Linked DNA regions of Homo sapiens: regions 2 and 3 are each reported to be linked to region 1. The links are microRNA targets in miRTarBase. Many come from high-throughput screens and were not tested one by one. Region 1 holds a microRNA gene; each other region holds the end of a gene's coding sequence.
What was found. The annotated mature microRNA hsa-miR-139-5p reads UCUACAGUGCACGUGUCUCCAGU and lies in region 1 at 2,636-2,658, opposite strand. An mRNA with a match to its seed (bases 2 to 7 or 8) in the 3' UTR can be bound and repressed. Matches are read on the target gene's strand: a 7mer-m8 pairs with bases 2 to 8, a 7mer-A1 pairs with bases 2 to 7 and ends in A, and an 8mer does both.

Region 1 (4,000 bases):
CAATTTCCAATCCTGTACCAGACTGACTACAGAAGTTCTGTGTGGCCTTACGCAACACCTTTCCTCTTCTGAGCCTCAGTTTTGTCATTACTAAAAAATGGATCTTTCTAGCTCTGCAGCATATAGTTCTATGGTTTAATTCAATGAGGCTGGATGGATGAGTGGGTAGGTGGATAGATGAATGGGTGCAGGATGGGTTGGGGGAGGGATGGTGGATGGATGGGTGGGTGGATGGTGGGTGGATAGGTAGATGGGTGGCTGGGTGGGTGGGTAGATGGATAGATGGAGCCTTTCTGCTCTCTCCAGCTCCACCTGCAGCTCTGTAGTCCAAGGTAAGGCCAGTCAGCACCACAGACAGCACCATTACCACGGACTTAGCTTTCATTCACCCCAGGTACCAAGAAAGGGGAGCCTGTTCTGAGTCAGGCCTCCTCTGAAGCCAGGGTTGGGGCTCAGCCGTGGGCTAGATCTGCATTTCTGCACTTATCTGGGGAGAGGAGAGGGTCTGGACTAAATTACTTCTAACTCGTTCTTAAAGCCTAAGATTCTATGAAACCAGAGACCTTGGTCTTATCCCCTTTGGAGCCACAAGCACAAGACCAACGCCCTTCCTGAGGGTTGGGGTCGCTGCCATAAGATCTTTCCTGTTTCATCTTCATGAGTCTCTATGCCTTTCCCCATCTCCACAGGTCCTCCTATGGCTCACCCCACTGCCTGGCACTGGCTCCATGCCTCCTTCTCTGGAAGGAAGCCTCACAGTGCCCCTCACACTGGCCTACAGGAAGGCAATAACATCAAACTCAAGAGTCAAGTACCTCCCAAGGTCCGGCTGTGCTCTTGGGACTGTCCGTTCACACTGATTCATGCAACTCTGCTTGTGTTAGGTCCTCTGTGAGGCCCTCCTCTCTCTCTGGGCCTTGGTGTCCCCTTCTGTAAAGGGAAGGGTCCTTCTAGATCCCCCAGGACCTCGGAGCCCTCTCATTCTCTGTCCATCATCCCTTCCCTTCCTTTCGGGTGGACCTCCCTGCCTTCCTCCCTGCCTCCCCCGGCCGACGTCCACCTCTGTCCCAGGCTGCACTCCTGTTCCTCTCCAGGAGTCTTGACGTCTTTTCCCACCTCCGCGTCCTCTCTTCCTCTCATAGCTTCTCCTCCCACTCTCCATCTCTCTCCTGCATACTTCCTGCCCCCACCTACTCCTGTGTCTCCAGCCCACTCCTCCCACAAACCTCCAAATAGTCACCTTGAGAACACTGGGAGAAAGCACCTAACTCAAGAGAAGCGCCCACAGAATGGGAAACCCAGGAAGGCAGCTAGAGGGGAAACAGGGGGTGCCAGGCAAGTGTCATCTACGCCTCTTTTGCTTCCTGCCTCCTGTTCCGGTGGGCAATATACACAGCCTCTTATCTTCCCAGAGGACAGGGCCCTTCAAGAGCACAGGAGAACGTATCGACCTCTGTGCCTAGCATGGGTCTGGCACTAGCAAGCACAGCCGCCCAGTCAGGGTGACTGGCAGAACTGCCCCAAAGGAGGCATCCTGTAGGCTCAGACCAGAGAAGCCCGCTTCAGCTGAGCCTCGGCCCCTGGCCTCAGCCCAGCACCCAAGCTGACTCTATGCCTCCTCGCAGCCTTACAGCACCCCCAGCCTGCAGAGTCAGAGACAAGAAAGCAGAACAAGGCGGTTCCTCCTCCTTCCTCCCCACACACCCACGCCTGCCACCTGGCCAAGGAGACGCCTCTCAAAGACACTGGTGCCTTGGATGTGCAAAGAGGAACTGCCTGTGAGTGCGAAGATCTTGCAGCCCCAGACTTCTCTCAATGAGGCTGAGCTGGATCAGGGTGAGGAGAATAGAGGAAAGAGGCTTGGCAACCCTTGGGAGGCTTAGTCTGAAGGAGGAGGCAAGACAGAGACCCAGAACGCAGCTGAACTAGCCCAACTGTCAGTGTCATGCTTGAGTGAGGCATCAGGCTTTGGGGAGGGGAAGGTACCTTTCCCAAGCACCTCCTGTGGCTAGAGGTTTCCACCAGCCGTTCCCCAATTTTCATGTGCACCAGAACCACCCAGAGTGCTTGTTAAAGTGCAGATTGCTGGCCCCACCCCCAGGGTTTCTGATACAGTAGGTCTGGGACGAGGTCCAAGAACTTGCGTTTCCAAACATTCCTAGATGACACTGATGCTGCTGGTCGGGGGACCACACCTCGAGACCCACTGACACTATCTTGGATCCTCCTACAAGCCCAAGAGGTGCCTGTTTGGGTCATCCCATTGTACAGGTGAAGAGGCTAAGGACTGGAGGGGAGGGGCCTTGCTCAGGTGAGAACAGCCAATGAGGGGACGCCCCAGGGAAGGTCCCAATGGAGGGGAGAGGCTGGGGGTGGAAGGACAGAGGGAGACTAGTGGTGGGGAGATATGGATAACAAGGCAGTATGGACGGGGCCACTCGCAGCGCAGGAGCCCAGTCTTAAAGGAGGGACCTGCCAGAGACCTTTCCTCCTCCCTCTTTCTCTTCCTCCCCTCCCTCCTCTACTTACCCCCTCCCGCTCCATGCCCCCATCCCTCCACCCTCCTGCCCACCCTTCGCAGACTCCGGCTTCAGTTGTTACTCCAACAGGGCCGCGTCTCCAGCCTCCGAGCCACACTGGAGACACGTGCACTGTAGAATACACCTGAGCCAGTCCCAGTGCCTCCCAAGGGTGTCCCCATCCACAGGAGCCTGACCCCACACTGTTGGCTCCTCCCTTCCAGCGCCCACAACCAGCTCCGCCCCGGCCTCTCGCCCTTCCCAAGCCAGTCCCAGCTTCTATTCCAGCTCCTGCCTCCTCCAAAATGACCTCCCGGTTGTCCCCCGCACCCTTGGATCCATCAGGAGCTAGGTTTGGGGGTGGATGAAGGAATGGGAAGAGGGAAAGAGCAGGAGAAGGCAGGCAAGAGTTGCCTGCACGATCAGTTCCCTGAGGGCCTGACTCACTGGAATCACCTCAGTCCCTCACCCAGAGTCTGGAGTCAGGAAAGGAGGGAACAGTCAGAGTGGGTAGAGGGAGGGAGGCAGGAGCTGAGTGTGGGGAGGGGGAGGATGGCCCTGCAAGGCAGACATCAGATCAAGCGGGGCAGAGCCAGCTCAGGTCTCCTCCCACCCCCTCCCACCTTCAGCTGCTTCATCTACAGGGAAGAACCGAGAGTGGTCCCATTTCTGCTGCCCACATTCTCCTGGACACCACAAACTTCCTCCCAAACACATCACAGCATCCCCCTCTCCATGCCATCACAGTCATCCTGGTCACCTGGCATTCTAGCTATCCTTGTCCTCTGGCCTGGGGCCCACGAGGCAGCTCGCGGCAGTCACAAGGAGGCAGATTTGGGCACACTGTGAATCAGAGTCGCGCCACAAAAGAGAGCCTGAGCAGGATGGATGAGGGGGCTCCTAGTCCCCAAGGGTGTGCAAGCAAGGGCCAAGGCCCTGCCACCAGGGAGCCTGTGCCCTGAGAAAGGCCCCTGGTGAGGTGGCAGGCCTCCAGCTCTGAGTTTGGTGACCCTGAATGTCTGTACACCCTCCTCAGCCTCACCCCCTCAGGGTGGGTTGGGAGCTGAGCAAAGCAAGTCCAGGAGCCTCCAAGAGGCAGGCATGGTGGCTCAAGCAGGAGAGGAGGAGGACGCTGAGTGTCCCGCTGGGTCAGTGTCAGAAGAGAGTTTACATCCCTCAGGAAATGATGGCCAAAGGAATAATTGAATGGGTGGATGGATGAATGACGAATGAATGAATGGAGTGATCTCCCTTCTCTGGATCCCCTCCAGGGAGAGTCTGTTGTTGTTCTCTCTCCAGGCAAGTCTGACCCTCCCACCTGGGGCTCCCACTGCCCCCCTTTCCCCCACCATGGCATGCACTGTGTGCATCAATGCAGTGCCACCCTTTCCCGTCTGGCTCCCACAACAGACTGGGAGCTTTTGGAGGGCAGAGATTGTGTCCTGCCCCTCTCCAGGTCTCCAGCATTACCCAGCCCCTCA
Region 2 (4,161 bases), not on the chromosome of region 1:
AGTCCGCCTATCTGCCCCTGCATGTGCACGAGGAAGAGGGAATCGTGGTGGCAGTGGGCCAGGACTGCTACACGAGAATCTGGAGCCTCCATGATGCCCACCTGCTCAGAACCATCCCTTCCCCGTACTCTGCCTCCGAGGACGACATTCCCAGCGTGGCCTTCGCTTCTCGGCTCGGGGGCATCCGGGGAGCAGCACCAGGGCTGCTCATGGCTGTCCGGCAGGACCTTTATTGTTTCCCCTTCAGCTAATTCTGCAGGTGGCAGCGCGGCCGAATGTGGATTTGACTTAAGGAAGTTAAGAGTATCTTATTACCGTTTCTGTGAGAGCATTTTAAGAGACGTGTTGTATATAGATCGCATCCATCCGGCTGCCAGGGGTAAGGTGTTAAGAGTTTTATGTGGAGACGTTCTTGTAAAGTTATTTCAGTTAAACTGTGGACTTAACTTGAAAGTCCTTTTCATAAAAGGTACCTGTTTCCTCTTGTTGAATGCCTTAGAACAGTTAACCACCTCCCCAACCCTTTTTTTTTTTAAATAATTAAGACTTTTCTAAGGACTGAAGATTGGCAAAAACTAAAATAAATTAAAGCAGCTTCTTTCACTAGTAGCCCTTTAGAGAAGCATAATGATGGTACTGGTAAGACTGTTTGACTAATCATACAGGGTCCCAGGCATCTGCGCTTGAGGAAGCCAGTGGGAGTGGAGACAAGGGAGAGGTAATTTCTCAGAGTCTCTACAGAAATATTTAAGGCTGGAGTTTGGAATCATTAAATTTGGCCTTCTCAAACTCAATAGCAGATCTCTTAAGGTTCTCCTTTTATTGTTATCATCCATAGGCATTGGAAGGAAAGATGGATCTTTTTAAATACTAGAAGTTTTAAACAGTCCTTGATGTGCTTTTGTTGAGGTACCTTTCAGAATGTAAGGTACAGCAGCTCCGGTTTCTATTATGGTGACTTGAAGTTCAGATTCAAGGAATTGGCTTTGACTTTTTGTAATCTAGGAGCAGCAGTTTGTGAGAGATTTATTAAAAATGTTAAAGAGCCTGTTTTTCTACTAAGCAAGGAAGAAAAAAAACGTGTAATAAGGTTAGTTGCTACTTCTTAATAGCCAAAGCCTGGAAATGATCTGAATTTCGAAAATGCTAAAATTCGTGATATAATCATACAATCGGATACTGCATAATAATAGAAAATAAGGCACACTTGCTATGTGAAACAGTATGGACCAATCTCAACATGTTGACTGAAATTAGGTAGAAATGAGTACAAACTGTATGATTCAATTCTAAAGTTCAAAAGCAGTAAAAACTTGTCTATGGTGATTAAAGGTAGAGTAGTACGTACCTCTGTAGAAAGAAAGGATTTTTTTTTCTTTTTCTTTTTAGGATGTTTGAGAAGTGACATGGGGAAGCTTTAGGAATGCTGAGTTTTCTTTATCTTGACACTTGATACATACGTAATTCATATATCTATATGCTTCACGTTTTTATAGTTTACTGTATATATGTTATTCCTCAAAAAATAAAAATAAGCAATTAGGACACTATTGTAGTTAGGCAAGGGACAATGATGCCTTGGACCTGCATGTGTGAGAAGTAGAAATGATCAGAAATGATTGCATTGGAAGATCATTCGAAGGTAGTATTATTGATAAGGCTTGCTGATGAGAGTAAACTAGAAAGTGAAAGAAAAAAGGATGGCAGCTTTTTTTTTTTTTTTTTTGAGACGGAGTCTCCTTCTGTCGCCCAGGCTGGAGTGCAGTGGCGCGATCTCGGCTCACTGCAAGCTCTGAGGATGGCAGCTTTTTTGTTAACTTTAGAACTGGTAGATGATGGTGTCGTTTACTAACCTGGGGAGGATGAGGAGAAAAAACTTTAGGTGAAGGGAATGATGCTGAGTTTTAGACATCTACTAAACCTCCAATTGGAGATACAAAGTATTCTGCAGATCAGGGGTCATGTCATGGCTGGTAATACAAATTTGGTGACTTCAATACATAGAATTAAAATAGATGGGATAGATGTGCTTTATATGACATAGATGAGGTTAATGTAATTACATATTGATAGAAGATGAGTAGATCAATAGAGAAGATATGGGAGTATGGTTAGGCACAGATTTTTGGAATCCTTTCAGTCAGTTTTTTATACTAACTTGATATGTGACATGAGAAATTGTGTAAGCTTTACTTGCTGTTGTTTCTTCAGTGTAAAATGTCTTAGATAATAAAACTAAATGATAAAGTAGATACAGGGTTAAAGGATATGTATCTTGTCCCTTTTACATTGTAAGCATTCAAAATAAAACAAAACAATTAATGAAGAAAAGACATTGCAATCATTCAGTAAGAACTAGCTGCAGACATATATATGTATATATATATATGTCTGATACTGATATGTCATTTATTTGGCAATTGACAAAAAATGACTACATAACTTGATAAACTGTTTATCCTCATTTGCAAAGAAAACAAATGCAAAAAAAAAATCAGTAAGAAAAACACACCTAAAAGAAAGGGAGGCAATAGTCTTGAATAGGAGAAAAAGAGGAGATCCAAATGGCTAATATACATTTGAAAAGGCATCCAACTTCTTTTATTGTCAAGGAAATGCAAATTAAAACCACAATGCCACACCACTTTCACTATAATGGTTAAAATAAAATAGATCAGGTGGAGTGACGTTGGGAATTAAAAGAGAAGCAAATGTTGGTGCAGTTGTGAGCAAATAGAACTTTCATATACTGTTGAGTGTATACTGGTACAAGCACTTGGAAAAGTTAGTAATTGCTAAAGCTAGAAGTTTGCATACTCTATGACCCAGTCATTTCAGTCCTAGGAATATATTAATCAGAAATGCATACCTGTGTCCACCATAATTTGTTAATAGCTCCAACTGGAAACTACCCAAATGTTCATTAATAGTAGAGTGGATAAATTGTGGGATATTAACACAATGGAATCCTTTTTGCAGTGAGAATGAGCATAGCACTATGGACAAATCCTGCAAACATAATGTTGAAATAAAGATGCCAAACACAAAAGAGCACATATTGTACAACTAATGCACATAAAGTCCCTAAACAGGCAAAATGAATCTATGTTCTTAGAAGCAGGATTAATGGTATACTTGTAGGGCAGAAGAGTAGTGACCAGAAGAAGATTCTAGGAAGCTAGCAATGCTGGTGTCATGCCAGACCCCTAGTGACTCCAATAGTAATGGCACTGTGTCCGAGAGTCCAAAGAAGATGCGTAGACAGCGAACAAGACTTGGGTTTATTGGGGGAACTTATATATAGGGATGGTCCAGTGGTAGTAGGCTGGACAGAAGAACCACTACTGTTTGTAAAAAGCATGCAGTTTATATAGCATTTTCATTTAGCACACTCCACCTAGCAACCTCCATTTAACCCAAAGCAAAGGACCTTGATCCCCTATATTGCCTGTGTTGTAAGGGATGGGCTGGGGGTTCAGACGTCCTTCATAGATAAGGAGTGAAACTCAGGGTTAGTCGCTCCTGTTTCCTTAGTTTGGGATTCTGAGCACACATTCGTTTTAGATCACAGGGTCGTTCTCAGGATATGGTTGTTACTGCTGTCAGGTGCATCCTCTCTATAGCGGGGTACTGGCTACACAGTTTTTGTTCACTAGTGATAATTGTTAGAGCTATGCCCTTAATATATGTCTTGTGTGTATTATACTTCAATAAAAAGTTAAATTTTAAAAAACCTAGTAAGACTTTCTCTTGCTGCCCCCACCTGTGGCTTTGGGGAAGGAATTGACTCTTCACAAATGCTGCCCTCTCTAAAAATATTACACCTCCATGCTCTGTCTCAGCTTAATTCTTCTCAAGGATAAAGGTTATCAAACAGTCAGTCTCTTGCCTCCAGGAGTATTTAATAACTCAATTATTCCAGCTGTAATATGAATCTTGTTCACTACCCTCTAAGGAAAAGTGTGTGTATGTGTAATTTTTTCTCCACCATACCAGGTAAATTGCAGAGAAGGAGCTTTTATTGGAGAAGCTAAGAAGTGTTGAATAAGAGAGCTATGATCCAGGAATACAGTTATCATTGGAGAAATCATTCTCCTTTTCTTGGATGGAAGTGGCAAAGAGTGAACGTAAGTTTAATGGTAGTGGACTACTAAATGGCTA
Region 3 (4,161 bases), not on the chromosome of region 1:
GGGGGATGTGCAGGGCCGGGACTTGCCGTCACATCTGCTGGCAGAGGGAAGCTGTGAGGGCTGTTGGCAGGGTTGTGGGGGTGGGGGTAGCGGCTGGAGAGTTCAGCATGGCTCTCCAGCCAGCGTGGCCAGGGCGTGCACTCTGCAGCATGGGTCTTGGAGCATGGGCCACTCTGCCAGTGAGGTGGCTGCCCTACATCAGATGCGCAGGCTCACAGCACAACTGTCAGACCCTCAGGTCCCCACCCAGGGTTTTGCAACCACAACGGGATGAGGCCAGGACTGAAAGAAAGATTTGTTAGCACTCGCTCAGGGAGAGGCAGCCATCCCCCCGAACTGCATTTCCCAGTGACCTCTGACACCAACTCCAGCTGTGGCCAGCAGGCTCCCTGCAGCCAAGTCCCTGGCAAGCCAGGTGGCCACCACAGTGGGGAAGGAGACAGCCCTTGGGGACTGGCTTATGTCTTTTACTTCACAGACAGCTTTAAACTGTTATGGAAAAACATTTTATTACACATATTCAACTTGCTTCCAATGAAATGATTAATTTTTCTATATAATTTTCATGTATAATGGCGTCCAATGTTTGTCTTCCGTTTTTTTTCCTTTCAAAACCAGCCCCAAAAAGTAAAACAAAAATTCCATGGGTACAGTATGTAATGCAAGTTAACGAATGGAAAATAGATACATTTGACTCTGAAACGAAAAAAGGACAATCGTATTGCCATAGAGGCTCTTTTCCTGCATTCTGATCCTATCCAGCAACGGTCAGCTGAGAGGGTTTAATTTTGCACCAATAAAAATAGCACCGTAGGGTCGTGAGACTCTGGTAACACGTGCGTTAGTGACACGTGTGCAAGCACAAAGGTACAGTACTCGAGGGACAGTACAGGGTATTAACACAGAAACATCACTGCTGTGATCAGCATCTAGTGGAACAAGAATGTTTATGATGGTTTCACTGAAATCACTGCTCGTGCCATGAACAGAAGGTAGGCTGGTGGATTTCAAGATAAGCTAAAAGGCCGGGCGCGGTGGCTCACTCCTGTAATCCCAGCACTTTGGAAGGCTGAGGCGGGTGGATCATGAGGTCAGGAGATCGAGACCATCCTGGCTAACATGGTGAAACCCCGTCTCTAGTAAAAATACAAAAAAGTAGGTGGGCGTGGTGGTGGGCGCCTGTAGTCCCAGCTACTGGGGAGGGTGAGGCAGAAGAATGGCCTGAACCCGGGAGGCGGAGCTTTCAATGAGCTGAGATCGCGCCACTGCACTCCAGCCTGGGCAACAGAGGGAGACTCTGTCTCAAAAAACAACACCGACAACAAAAAGATGAGCTAAAAGAGCTCTGCAGATGCAGACTTTAGGGGAACTAATGGGGGTATCTGACAATAACCCAATCAATCCTTTTCATTCTGAGGGTGTGGGGCCCTTGCCAGGGTGACAGTGGGCATATCTGGAGGCCCCGGGGCCCATGCAGGAGACCAAGCTAAGGCTTCCTTAGTGAGCTTGCCCGGCTCTGCTCCTTGGCTGCAAAAGTCTAAATGTCTTTCAGTGAATTAACAGTTCATTTGGGGATGAAGAAAATTGAACCTCAGCGCCCCCAAAATTTTGAGGGCTTTGTGAAAATGGGAATTCATGGGAGTCTGCTGGTGGCCAGGCCTGAAGGGGAGGACAGCAGTCTGCGCAGGCCGCGGGGCGAGGGTGGGCCGCTCCATCCTGACACCCTCGGTTCTTTCCACAGAGCACCCACGGAAGTTTCTCAACACTTCTCGTTGATTCAAGTGGAAGTGAGTAAATTCCCTGACATCCCTACCGCTTCTCTGCCTCTAGGGTAGTAAAAACAAAAACACAGCTCGTAAGACAGGGTGGAGAAGGCAGAGAGGCTTCTTTCTGATTTAAGCTAACTCTACGGTTGTGACATGTAACAAAACAAAACACAGAAACACAGCACCAATAAATCAAGAAGCACAGGGAGATGATCCCATGGAAGTCCAAGTGAGACCTTCCGTCTGAAATCAGGGAGGAGGTGTTATTTACGGTAAAGTCCTAGAACATAAGCACCCATGAAATGCCCACCAAGTTGGTGAGCAAAACAGGCCTCCTGGCATCTAGGGTCCCTGCCCGGCCTCCTTGCAGGTAGGGTGCTACCATCCTCTGTGCTCTCAAAGAGGCCACTCTGCTTGTCTGCTGCCAGGCGTAAGGGGGCTGCAGGGGGGAAGGACCTTCCTTCATCATGCATCATCCTTGCCCCACCAAGAAGATGGGTCAATGATGACAGGCGTGATGATAATGGGTACCACAAAGTCTGGGGCTACAGGAAGGCTCGGCGGGTGTGCAGCAGTGCCAGCCAGATGGCGTTCCTCCCCTGGTCCTGGCACATCAGGCTGCTCCGTGCCAGGATAGAGCAGTCAGGCCTTGCTCTACAGATCCTAGGCCTGGGCTTGTGTCCTCAGAGGTCCCAAATGTCGTCTTACCTTCAGATAAATGGCCACGGTCGGTAGAAAGCCACTGGGATGTGGTACAGCATCTCTAAGGTACAAAGCTTTAGGAAGTGCAGGCCAGAGTGGATGTTCCCGGAAGGCGGGGCAGGTGCCCATCCGCCCCAGTGAAGCTGGCCCAAGCTTACCTTTGCCTTAGGAAGCAACCCCATCACCGCAATTACCGTTTCTTATGTCACAGCACCTTGAAGAGAGGCCCTTCTGTTTCCCTACACGGTGGACAGCAGAGCTCTGAAAATTAGATGCTTCCCCAAACCCAGACTCTCTTGGAACATTCTTCCCATGCGGGTGGTATGAACTGCGTGGCACTGCTGTCCTCGCTGGCATATATAGATTTACACTCCACGCACGAGACTTCCAAGGCAACACCTAGGATTTAGAGACTATGTTCTCAGAGACGGGCATGGAGGCAACGTCCTGGTTCTCATGTGGTCAAGAAGGTAGATGGAGAGAAACGTGTGCTAAGCAGCCCGGCCCTCCCCAGAGAAGCCACGGGCAGAGGCTCACCAACACCTGCCCCTCCCTCCATGGTGTCGCCGGCTTTCAGAATAAAGCCTTTTCTAGCATGTCTCGTTTTGGGGATGTTTCCTCCATGATATACCAAGCACTGGAAATTCAAATGTCAAAAGCGAGTCAAGACAAGAACACTAAATGATGTCTCTCTCTTGACGGTTGTCTGCCAGAGGTGCTTCCCTTCGAGGTACCTGAAATCCTAGAAATTGAAGTTACTTTGTGACTCATGCCTACTTTCTCCTCACTGTAGAAAGCCAGCCAGTGGCTGTTAACAATATATTAAGTACGGAAGCACTAATGGCAAACGCCAAGTCCACGCTCATGTTCTATGTAGTTGGATTCTTGTGGCAGCCGGGTGGGGGCGTGGCCACAAGGCTGGTAGGCTTGCGGGTGGGTGGGTTTCAGACCTGAGTCTGAGCTTTGAGCGACCCTTGGGACTGCGTGTCACGAGTTCGGCGGTGGCTGGCGCATCTTGTTTGCATAGAAGTCCCTGCAGGTCTGGCAGCAGCGCTGGTACCACCGCATGTCCTGGCAGAGGTTCTTTTCTCGGATGACCCGGCAATATACCGTCCACTGGTCTCGTGTGCATTTGTAGGTCAGAGCAGCTAAGGGGATAGGAGAGAGAATACCCAGGGTCAGGGATGGCCTAGGCATGTCCTGATGCAGGCACAGGGAGGGCTTGTGGTCTGACCGTCTGGGCTCCCTCACCCTCGTGCACACGTCAACCCTTTGCACTGATTAGGCCATGCCTCCTGCCAGGGCACTGGGGGTGCCACTTTCTGTCACAGGGATGCACCTTTGCATCCAAACCCAACCACATGACAGAGTGTGGTGGTCTGGCTGCCTCTTCAGGGAAGAGGGCACAGGCCACCTTGCTTCCGAGCTAAGTGGCACTTACTATTTTGTGGCCAAGGGTACCATTACTGTAGGCATTTATAAAACAGGACAACATGGAACAGTGGACATCAAAGGACCCCAAAAAGCATGAGGTCCAAGTACATACAAGTGGCCCAAATATCCTTCAGGGTCTTGATTGTACAGAGAGAAGGCCCTGCTCAAGGGAGGTCCTGAAGTTCCCAAGCAGGCCGGTGCTTGAAAAGACACAACTATACTTCTGCCAGCTCAAAGGCCTCCCCCGGAACAAAGATAC

Region 2: miRTarBase lists DCAF4L1 as a target of hsa-miR-139-5p. Seed matches in the 3' UTR shown: 7mer-A1 at 1,351-1,357.
Region 3: the mRNA of ADAMTS17 is a reported target of hsa-miR-139-5p. Seed matches in the 3' UTR shown: 7mer-A1 at 2,420-2,426.

The regions. Positions count from the first base shown.
Region 1 is chr11:72,612,467-72,616,466 of GRCh38, forward strand. It overlaps MIR139 (microRNA 139), which reads right to left and starts at 2,664; the gene lies at 2,597-2,664. All of the region lies in intron 2 of PDE2A (phosphodiesterase 2A), which reads right to left. It overlaps LOC105369377 (a long non-coding RNA gene), which reads left to right. Exons shown (of 4, transcript XR_001748292.2): 2 at 1,626-1,836; 3 at 2,163-2,271. RefSeq lists an enhancer at 1,572-1,671.
Region 2 is chr4:41,982,733-41,986,893 of GRCh38, forward strand. DCAF4L1 (DDB1 and CUL4 associated factor 4 like 1) reads left to right here. Exons shown (of 1, transcript NM_001029955.4): 1 at 1-3,733. The coding sequence ends at 251. Among named protein-coding and RNA genes, the nearest start is that of DCAF4L1, 3.1 kb to the left of the region's middle. RefSeq lists an enhancer at 1-286.
Region 3 is chr15:99,970,947-99,975,107 of GRCh38, forward strand. ADAMTS17 (ADAM metallopeptidase with thrombospondin type 1 motif 17) reads right to left here. Exons shown (of 22, transcript NM_139057.4): 22 at 491-3,616. The coding sequence ends at 3,456. Among named protein-coding and RNA genes, the nearest start is that of LYSMD4, 240 kb to the left of the region's middle.